Regions from separate parts of the Homo sapiens genome. Here region 1 is linked to region 2. Evidence: fine-mapped expression QTL. A gene starts in region 2. The other region holds a variant in brackets. All regions are shown on one strand. Distances are from middle to middle. Region 1 overlaps PADI6 (peptidyl arginine deiminase 6). Region 2 holds the start of PADI6 (peptidyl arginine deiminase 6).

The links. PIP is the estimated chance that this variant, and not a neighbour inherited with it, causes the effect.
Region 1: its variant is fine-mapped to the expression of PADI6 in whole blood (INTERVAL, PIP above 0.99).

The regions. Positions count from the first base shown.
Region 1 is chr1:17,390,175-17,395,544 of GRCh38, forward strand. It overlaps PADI6 (peptidyl arginine deiminase 6), which reads left to right. Exons shown (of 16, transcript NM_207421.4): 9 at 1,940-2,051; 10 at 3,801-3,908; 11 at 4,126-4,280; 12 at 4,777-4,933; 13 at 5,366-5,370. Among named protein-coding and RNA genes, the nearest start is that of PADI6, 21 kb to the left of the region's middle. RefSeq lists an enhancer at 3,547-4,746. The variant T/C (reference allele first, on the strand shown) is at 3,173.
Region 2 is chr1:17,370,058-17,375,427 of GRCh38, forward strand. PADI6 (peptidyl arginine deiminase 6) reads left to right here and starts at 2,139. Exons shown (of 16, transcript NM_207421.4): 1 at 2,139-2,304; 2 at 2,999-3,176; 3 at 5,370. The coding sequence starts at 2,189.

The sequences.
Region 1 (5,370 bases), 20 kb after region 2:
CTGTAGTCCCAGCTACTCAGTGAAGCTGAGGCAGGAGAATCACTTGAACCCAGGAGACAGAGGTTGCAGTGAGCTGAAATAGCCCCACTGCACTGCAGCCTGGGAAACAAGAGCGAAACTGTCTCAAAAACAAAAAATAAAATTGCTGGGTGTGGTGGCTCATGCCTGTAATCCCAGCACTTTGGGAGGCTGAGGCGGGCGGATCACCTGAGGTCAGGAGTTCAAGACCAGCCTGGCCAACATGGTAAAACCCCGTCTCTACTAAAAATACAAAAAACAATTAGCCAGGCATGGTGGTGCACCCCAGTAATCCCAGCTACTCGGGAGGCTGAGGCAGGAGAATCTCTTGAACCCAGAAGGCGGAGGTTGCAGTGAGCCAAGATTGCACCACTGTACTCCAGCCTGGGTGACAGATAAGATTCCATCTCAAAAAAAAAAAAAGACTTCTACCCCTCTTCCAGGCTCCGTGGGTGTAGAAGCCAGACAGCTTTTCCAGGGCAGGGCTCCTGGGGAGTGTGGTCCTCAGAGGAATAGCAGGCTTCAGGATGAGAAGGTAAAATCTCAGAAAGTCTGATGGGATTCTGCTGATGGCAGATACAAAAGACATAAAGCAGAGAGATGTGGTATCTCGAGTATTTGAAGACGGGTTTCTCACTCACAGGAGGCATCTACTTGTTCTTCAAAGAAACCCAAGTCTTCCATACAGTGTGATATTCAGGCATGGTTTGACCCCATATAGCTGCATATGACCTGCAAGACTGAGCCGACACACCCTTCCCCCAGTAAGCGTCAGACTGTTCTAGACCTTGTCAGGCTGGTAGCTCCCTGTGGCTTTGCATAGACCCAAGAAATAGGTTCTTTGGAGCAGTAGCATAGATACTATGAATGTGCTATGCCAGTAGTTACATTGCTGTATTCTATTAGTAGCAACATGAGCTTTGGACCTGAAGCCGGACTACAGTCCCAATTTCAATATCTCCCAATATTAGGGCCTTGCTGACCTCCAACTTTTGAGGACCTGTTTGTTCCGTTTGTTTAAGATAATTTATTATTTTTTCTTTTTGAGATGGAGTCTCGCTCCGTTGCCCAGACTGGAGTGTAGTGGTGTGATCTTGGCTCACTGCAGCCTCCACCTCCAGGGTTCCAGCAATTCTCCTGCCTCAGCCTCCCGAGAAGCTGGGATTACAGGCATGTACTGCCACGCCCAGCTAATTTCTGTATTTCTAGTAGAGATGGGGTTTCACCATGTTGGCCAGGATGGTCTCAAACTCCCAGTCTTAGGTGATCCGCCCGCCTCAGCCTCCCAAAGTGCTGGGATTACAGGCGTGCGCCACTGCGTCCGGCCAGATGAGTGGTCTTAACATCAGCCTCACACACTGCTGTTTCCCTTCAAGGAAGGGATGGCCACTGTAGATCTGTGAGCCTGATGCTGTGCACAACGGCTTGAAGACCCCAGGGCTCAAGACCCACCCAACGCCACACATATAAAAATGACAACCATGCATGGTGGCAGGCGTATAGTCCCAGCTACTGTGGGGGGCCGAGGCAGGAGACTCACTTGAACCCAGGAGGTGGAGGTTGCGGTGAGTCAGATCATGCCACTGCACTCCAGCCTGGGTGACAGAACGAAAGGAAGGGTACTTGCAGAATGTGACCGAAGGGTATAAACAGAGCAGGCCTTGGCTACCAGGGAAGGGGCCGCCACTGGCACTTCCCAACCTGGCTCTGCCATGGGCAAAGCTGAGTAGTGTCAGACAAGATGGGCTCTGAGCTTCTGGCTTGTGCCGAGGTCAGGGATGGTTGCTCTGTCGACCTCACGGGCAGGGATGTAACCTCTCCTGGTGAGAAGGATGTGTTCTTCCTCTCTTGGCACAAGGAGGTCATAACCAGTAAGGGACCTTCGAAAGCCTTCCCAGAACTGGCTTCTCTCCCATGGCAGGGAGCTGCAGCTGCAGGGTTTTGTGGACACAGTGACGAAGCTGAGTGAGAAGAGCAACAGCCAGGTGGCATCTGTCTATGAGGACCCCAACCGCCTGGGCAGGTGGCTCCAGGTAACACCCCACCTGGGAACCCACCTGTCGGGGAGGGGTGGGGAGACTCAGCATGTGCCACCTAAGAGGAACTTCACAGGCTTCTGGTTAACCTTAAAGACCGAAGCCTTGATAGGGGCGGCCCTGTTCTTAGGACTTCAGTGGAGGCTCAGATGAGGATTTGCCTGAGTCATGGCCACTAAGGAATAGTTAGAGTCCAGCCTCCTTCCCATTCCAGAATGGACACGTGTTCAAGACCACAGAACCCTAACCCCCAGGCCCCGGAAGGCTCTGATACCTTTGGCTAAGGCTGTGAGAGCTGGGCCACTGCCCTGGGGTCCCGCCTGACTCTGGCACAGCACCAAGTCTAGAGCCCCGGTCAGCCTTCGGTTCTAGAGCTCTGTCCTCTGCAGATGAGTGATCATCACATGCTAGGCACGCCATCCTGAGCACCAGAGATAAACTGGAACATATGCTGTCCCATGTTAGCAAGGATAGAACTTTTAAGTGCTATGAAATTTAGACAATGAGATGATACAGTGATTCATTAGACCAAATGAGGCAGTTTAAGAATAGTTGGGAAAATCTGCAAATGAAACTTAAGGAAACAAGGAGCTGGCCATGCAGAGATTTGGGGCAGGGGTGGCCAGGATTAAAAGGAGTTCCTGGCCGGGTGCAGTGGCTCAAGCCTGTAATCCCAACACATTGGGAGGCTGATCACTTGAGGTCAGGAGTTTTAAAACAGCCTGGAAAACATGGCAAAATACTGTCTCTACTAAAAAAATACAAAAATCAGCCGGGCATGGTGGCGCGCGCCTGTAGTCCCACCTACTCTGGTCACTGAGGCAGAAGAATCGCTTGAACCCAGGAGGCGGAGGTTGCAGTGCACCTAGATCACGCCACTACACTCCAGCCTGGATGACAGAGCGAGACTGTCTCAAAAGAAAAAAAAAAATCTGGGGTTGTGCTTGGAGGTCTTGAAGAAGGCTGATGCAGACAGATCACAGTGAACAAAGGTGAAAGGCAGGGCTACCTCCTGGTTAAGGTACCTTTTAAGCTAAGGACAAACAAGAGACACTCAAAGCATGAATCGGGAATGAAAGGTTATAGTTCAGGTTTTCAAAAGACCCCTCTGGCTAAGA[T/C]GTAGGGAACAGATCTTAAGAGTAGGCAAGAATAGAAGCGAAACTGGAAGGCATCACAGTGGCATAGGGTGGAGACACGGTGGCTTCCTGAGTGGCACCAGCGCAGAGCTGACTCAGAATGTAAGCCAGTAAGGCTTGTTAATGGATTCTTTACGAAAGAAGAAAGGAAGAATCTGGATGCTCAAGTCTTTTTCGCCCAGACTGGAGTGCAGTGGCGCGATCTCAGCTCCACTGCAGCCTCTGCCTCCTCCTGAGTAGCTGGGATTACAGGCATGAGCCACCATGCCTGGCTAACTTTTTGGTTTTGTTTTAAGTAGACTGTCTCACCATGTTTCCCAGGCTGGTCTTGAATTCCTAGGCTCAAGTGATCCACCCACCTTGGCCACCCAAAGTGCTGGGATTGCAGGCGTGAGCCACCACACCTGGCCATGGATGCTCAAGTCTTAAACCTGAAGAGTAGGGGAGAGAGGGATCGGAGAGCCTTCAAGAAGGGGTGATATCTGAGCTGGGTGTTGAGGGTTGAGCAGGAGTTGGCAGGAAGGAAGGGGGTTCTTACCGTACCTTTTCCGTAAATGGGGTCCGGGGAGATGTGTGACTGGCAAACAATCTGTCTTCCTCTCCATTCCAGGATGAGATGGCCTTCTGCTACACCCAGGCTCCCCACAAGACAACGTCCTTGATCCTCGACACACCTCAGGCCGCCGATCTCGATGAGTTCCCCATGAAGTACTCACTGGTGTGGAACTTGGTTTGGCTAATCTGAGCTCAGTCCAATCTCTCAGGCCTGGGGCCTGCCTAGAAATAATGGGGCACCAAGTGGGGAGAGGGCCCAGGTGGCCTCTGAGGGGGGAGGGGACGTGGAAGTCTACCTGAGAGCCTGGATTTAGGGATAAGACTGGGGCCTAAAGCCATCCCCTACTAACACCCCTTCCCTGGCTCGGTCTCTCCCCCAGAGCCCTGGTATTGGCTACATGATCCAGGACACTGAGGACCATAAAGTGGCCAGCATGGATTCCATTGGGAACCTGATGGTGTCCCCACCTGTCAAGGTCCAAGGGAAAGAGTACCCGCTGGGCAGAGTCCTCATTGGCAGCAGCTTTTACCCCAGGTGAGCCACAAAGCCAGACGCCTCCAAATGAAAGGAAGGGACCATGGTCGTTCCCCTGGCCCCGCCTGCTTCCCATAGCACCTCAGCAGGTCACACACACTGGACCATTTCTTAAACTGAAGACATTTGAGCTTTTGATTCACGTGGGAGACTAAAGATGAGAATAAACCATTTATTCTTTGATTCCAGGGTTTAAACTGAAACAAGTGAAATTTGGTCCACCAGGATGTCATTTCCAAGAGATATGTGGTTGGATTTCTTGGTGGCCATAAATCCAAAATGATACTTGTGCCCGGGCTTGTCTGTCTAGAAACACTAGGCTCTGTTCTGAGTGGGGTCAGAGTAAGGGATTCGTAACCAACACATCCGCTATGGACCGGCCTCTTTCACACAACGGTCAGAGGCCAGCTCCCTGGAGGCAGCATGACACCAAGTGGCGGGTGACCAGCCCTGGGCCACACTGGCTCAAGAGCTGTTCTTTCCATCTTCCTTCTAGCGCAGAGGGCCGGGCCATGAGTAAGACCCTCCGAGACTTCCTCTATGCCCAGCAGGTCCAAGCGCCGGTGGAGCTCTACTCAGATTGGCTAATGACTGGCCACGTGGATGAGTTCATGTGCTTCATCCCCACAGATGACAAGAATGAGGGCAAAAAGGTCTGCTTTGGGGTCTGGAGAAGGGACATCTGACCCTTGCCTTCTGTTGGGGAATCTTGGAAGATTCTGGAGAGAAAACTGGCTTTTTCTTGTTTTTTTTTTTTTTTGTTTGTTTTTTGAGAGTCTTGCTCTGTCACCCAGGCTGGAGTGCAGTGGCGTGATCTCCGCTCACTGCAACCACTGCCTCCCGGACTCAAGCAATTCTCCTGCCTCAGCCTCCTGAGTAGCTGGAATTACAGAAACATGCCACCACACCTGGCTCATTTTTGTATTTTTAGTAGAGATGGAATTTCACCATGTTGGCCAGGCTGGTCTCGAACTTCTGACCTCAGAGGATCTGCCTGCCTCGGCCTCCAAAGTGCTGGGATTACAGATATGAGCCACCATGTCCAGCTGAGAAAGCTGGCTTCTGACCCAAGTTCTGTTTCCCAGGGCTT
Region 2 (5,370 bases):
CTTGCAAATTTAGCCAGCCTGGCTGACCGAACAGGCTTCACTCAGTACCTCATCTCCACCTCCTATGCTGGGTACACCTGGGTGCATATTAGAGCAAAGGCTGAAAACAAATGTTTATATTACAGTACAACCCTATGTAAAATACACAGCTGTACAAAGGGGTAAGGCTGCTTTTTACGTACTGATACAAAGAACTTCTCTCCAGTATAACTATGAAGTGAAAGAGGCAAGGTATGGAATACTGGGTGGCACATACTACCGTTTATATAAGAAGACAGTAGTAGGAGGAGAGAAGAAAAGAGCAAAAGCGCCCCGGACATAGTAGGTGTTCAGCAATTCTAGTGGAGCAAATGACTAAATGACCTCCTTGTCCTTCCTCAAAAAAGATAACCCAATGGGCTTCCAGGGGCATCTCCACTGAACTGAAAAGTTTGTAATTGTAACCAAGCAGCTTAACTTTGAGCACATTTTACAACTTTTCTCTTTAGTCTCGAGATGTAACCTCGAAGGAACCTGCAGAAGCCTTTTTCCCTTAACCTTAAAATAGACTCCACGTCCTTCCCTTTCTCACCATAAAGCCCCTTCAAATTTATCTAACTGTATGCTAGTATTGGAGGAGGAAGAGAAGAAGAAAAGGATACACACACATATTTACTTGGTCATGCATAACATTTATTTGGAAAGACATATAAGAAACGGGTAACACTGTCACTACCTCCACCTGCAGGTGGGTAAGGCACAGGGCAGGAGGGAGACTCTGAACTTGGAATCATGTGACTGTGGTACCTATTCAGGAGTAAGCATGACCCAGCCTGGGCAACATAACAAGACCCCATCTCTGCGGAAAAATGTAAAACCATTAGCTGGGCATGGTGGTGCACATCTGTAGTCCCAGCTGCTCAGGAGGCTGAGGTGGGAAGACCACTTGAGCCTGGGAGGTCAAGGCTGTGAACCATGATCACGCCACTTCACTCCAGCCTGGGTAACGGAGTGAGACCCTGTCTCAAAAACAACAACAAAAAAAAACTCAACCCAAGCTTAAGACATGAAATGAACACAATTTTAAAGTCAGTTATGTAAGTTCCTTGTGCCAGAGAAGGGTTCCTATTTCTTTGCTCTGTGGGCTCCGCTGAGATGAGTAGCAGCTGATGACCCTGGCTTGATGTATTCATTCCACTAACACTTGCTGTGCCCCCACCCCCACCGACACAGCTGTAAGCAAAGAGCTCACCTTAATCACTGGGGGTTGGGATGCAGGTTCCTGGACCACACCCTAGACCTTCTGGGCCCAGGAATTTGCAATGTTAACAAGCACCCTTGATAATTTTTGAAACCACCAGAGGGTTAATAACCACCTAGTCTAGGCAGGCGCTGTGGCTCACGCCTGTAATCCCAGCACTTTGGCAGGTCGAGATAGGAGGATTTCTGGGATCAAGAAGTTCGAGACTAGCCTGGGCAACATGGCAAAACCCGGTCTCTACAAAAAATACAAAAATCAGCTGGACATGGTGGTGCACACCTGTAGTCCCAGCTACTTGGGAGGCTGAGATGGATCACTGGAGCCAGGTAGGTTGAGGCTGCAGTGAGCTATGATTGCGCCACTGCACTCTAGCATGGGTAGAGACCCTGTCTCAAAAACAAAACCAAACCACCAGTCCAGCACTTTGCCGAGCTCCTTCGTCAATTTCCAGGAGACACACACCCTAGAACTGAGACCCCAGAGCCTGGGCATGCTGCCACACATTGCCATCCTGACTGCTACCATCAACTCCTCCCAACTGCCCTCTGCAGGTATTTGCCCCGACAGCTTCCAGCTGAGTCCTCCAGCAACATGGCCAAGTTGATCACTCCAAGGCACCGACTTCCCAGAGCCCCTCCTCTTCCCAGCTGAAGGCCACAGATGCCTAAGCAACCGGCCTCAGACTCCCCTGGCCTGCAGCTCTGCAGGCACGAGGTGCCTGATAAATTGGTGATGAAGGGGTTCTGATGCCACCTGCTCCCCAGACTATCAGCCACCAGGAAGCTCTTAGAGGGAAAATCAGTGACACCTGGGCAGCTGCTGACCCCTCCCCTTCTTAACAAGGGGGTGGCCTGCACAGGCCTGGACTGTATAACAGGGAAGGGCAGGGTGAGCCCTGGGGCGTCTGAGGCTGCTGTGCTGAGTGAGGGCTGCGGTGCAGGCCTGAGGATGGTCAGCGTGGAGGGCCGAGCCATGTCCTTCCAGAGTATCATCCACCTGTCCCTGGACAGCCCTGTCCATGCCGTTTGTGTGTTGGGCACAGAAATCTGCTTGGATCTCAGCGGGTGAGATGCTGGGAGCTCTGCCAGAGGTGGCAGGCAGACAGGCAGGCAGGCCTGGGACCCAGTCCCCTTGATCTGGGAGTTGGGGGTTACTTCTCTAGCCTCACTATCCTGCCCCATCTTGGGAAGCCTTGGGTCTCTAGTGGGGGGCCTCCCAGTTCCAACCACGCAGAATTCTGACTTAAATCCTGCCTCTGCCCTGTAGCAGCTGCCATGGACTCTTAGTGAGGCAAGGGCCTTGGCCTCTCTGTTCCCCTATCTGTGAAACCATGGGGACGCTGGCCTCGGGGGGCTGTGAGGAGCAGGCCAGGGAGACTGCTAGATGCTGGAGCCTGCAGGTGGAGGTGACTCAGCAGGGTCACAGTACAACTTCCTGAGTCGCTTGCCCTGATCTTTTTCTTTATGGGGATCCTTTGTGGCTCCCCCCTTCTTGGGAATTGGGTGCTTATTACTAAGATGTAGCTGTGGTAACTTCTGCAGTGTCGGTAGCGGGATGGGGTTTGGGCTGGAGCCCGTCGGAGAGCAAACACAGGGGTCCTTTGGGAGGGGGTGGGTAGGAATAAGGACCCCAGACCACTCTGCCTCAACACCCTAAGGAGAATGAGGATTCGGGAGCCGTCCCCTCCCCCATGCCAGTCATCTCCTAGGCTGAGAAGGTGTTTGTGCCCTGACGCGTGTCTCTTACCGGGCAAACCAGGTGTGCCCCCCAGAAGTGCCAGTGCTTCACCATCCATGGCTCTGGGAGGGTCTTGATCGATGTGGCCAACACGGTGATTTCTGAGAAGGAGGACGCCACCATCTGGTGGCCCCTGTCTGATCCCACGTACGCCACAGTGAAGATGACATCGCCCAGCCCTTCCGTGGATGCGGATAAGGTAAGCCTCAGGGGAAGAGGTGAGGGGCATCTCCCGGGGTGGGACCTAGCACAGCCACTGGGGCTTCCTCCTGGCTGCAGACGTGACTCGAGCCTGGGAAACACGTTGTTTTGCACGTCTGATCTCATCCAGTGTCTGCAACAGACCAGTGGTGTGGGCACTCCATGACCCCATTTTACAAAGAAACAGAGGCACCTAGCGAAGGTGCCCTGCCAAGTCAGCAACCAGCAGGACTGGGATTTATTTTTTATTTTCATTTATTTATTATTATTTTTTTTTTTGAGTCTCACGCTCATTGCCCAGACTGGGGTGCAATGGCACAATCTCAGCTCACTGCAACCTCCACTTCCCGGGTTCAAGCAATTCTCCTGCCTCAGCTTCCCGAGTAGCTGGGACTACAGGCACCCACCACCATGCCCGGCTAATTTTGTATTTTTAGTATGAGACAGGGTTTCACTATGTTGGCCAGGCTGGTCTCAAACTCCTGACTTCAAGTGATCTACCTGCCTCCACCTCCCAAAGTGCTGGGATTACAGGCATGAGCCACCACACCTGGCCTACCATCACTTTACATATGAGGAAACTAAGGCACAGAGTGCTGTGTCTAAACCTAAGTAGCCTACCTAGAGTGGGATAGACCCAGGATTTGAGCTTGAGCCCAAGGGTGTATTCTCCCCTGGGTAAGCTGTCTCCCTAATGGGGTGCCTATGTTGGGGAGGTTCTCCTGTGGTAGAAGCAGGTGGCTCATTCAGGGCAGGAGTGTTCAACCTTGGTTGCAGGTGAGAACCACTGGGGAGCTAATAACATCAATACCCAGGCCACACCCCCTCTACCAATTAAACCTGAGGTACCAATGGAACCTCAGGGCTAGGATCCTGGCCGCTGGTTTAAAGCTCTCCAGGTGCACCCAGTGCGGGGCTGGGGGTGAGAACCATGATGGAGCAGTTCAGGACTGGGAGAGCTCTCCCTCCCTCCCCCCACACCCTACAGGACCTACTGGAGATGTCTGCTGCAGAGGGGTAGGTACACACACCCACCTGCGCTGTGTGCCCAGGGCAGGCAACTCCCTGAGAGGCAAGTAGTGGACTTAGGTAGGAACTGAGTGTCTCTGGCCAGGTGTGGTGGCTCATGCCTGTAATCCCAGCACTTTGGAAGGCTGAGATGGGCAGATCACCTGAGGTCGGGAGTTTGAGACCAGCCTGGCCAACATGGTGAAACGCTGTCTCTACTAAAAATACAAAAATTAGCCAGGTGTGGTGGCAGGTGCCTGTAATCTCAGGTTCTCAGGAGGCTGAGGCTGGAGAATCGCTTGAACCCAGGAGGTGGAGGTTGTAGTAAGCTGAGATTGTCCCACTGCATTACAGCCTGGGCAACAAGAACAAAACTCCATCGCAAAAAAAGGTATCTCAGATAAGAATGGAGGCCACGGTGGGTGCCAGTGGAACTCCAGACTACCTGAGAACCATTCTCTGCCCAGGGCTCGGCCTCCAGGACCCTCAGGAGTGGCCAACAAAGAACCTTGAACTTAGAGGACTAAAGCTTCTATTTAAGGATGGGGTGGATCTGTCACATGCTCTGGCCAATGGTTGGGTCTCTGGTTCATGACCAAGACCTTGTGGTCAGGGTCAGTGGCTGGAGGGCAGGTCTCTTTCTAAAAGCATAAAGTAGAGGCTGGTGTGGGACACAGTCCCACAGTTGGGACTGAGTCCCAACGCTGCTTCTTCACCTGGGTGTCCTTCTTAGTGAGCAGCTTAAGCCACCAGAGGCCTGTTTCCCCACCGTGCACCTTATGGAGTAGGACATGGGACCCCAGGAGAGTGGGTTTAGCAGGGAGGATGTATAGTGTGGTTTCAAGCTTGGGCTCTAGAGCCAGGCAGCCTGTTTCTTAAATCCCTTTGGGATAAGTCCCTTGATCACCCCGCCATCAGGGATACAGCTCTCACGTGGACAGGTGGTTTCAAGCCTGGCTCTCGACAAGGTTAGGGTTGGGGGTCATGGCAGGTTCTAAGTCCTTAGGGGACTGACTCAGCCCTAAGCGCAGGGCTGTGGCCCCATACCAGCTCATAGGTGAGACTTCAGAAGCCATAACACAAGACCAAGATCCCACGCCTAGACTCGGCACATGGCCTGGGGCTCTGTTCCTGGCACCTCCCGTCCAACACTGCCTATGGTTTCGGGATGCTGTCTCCACAGG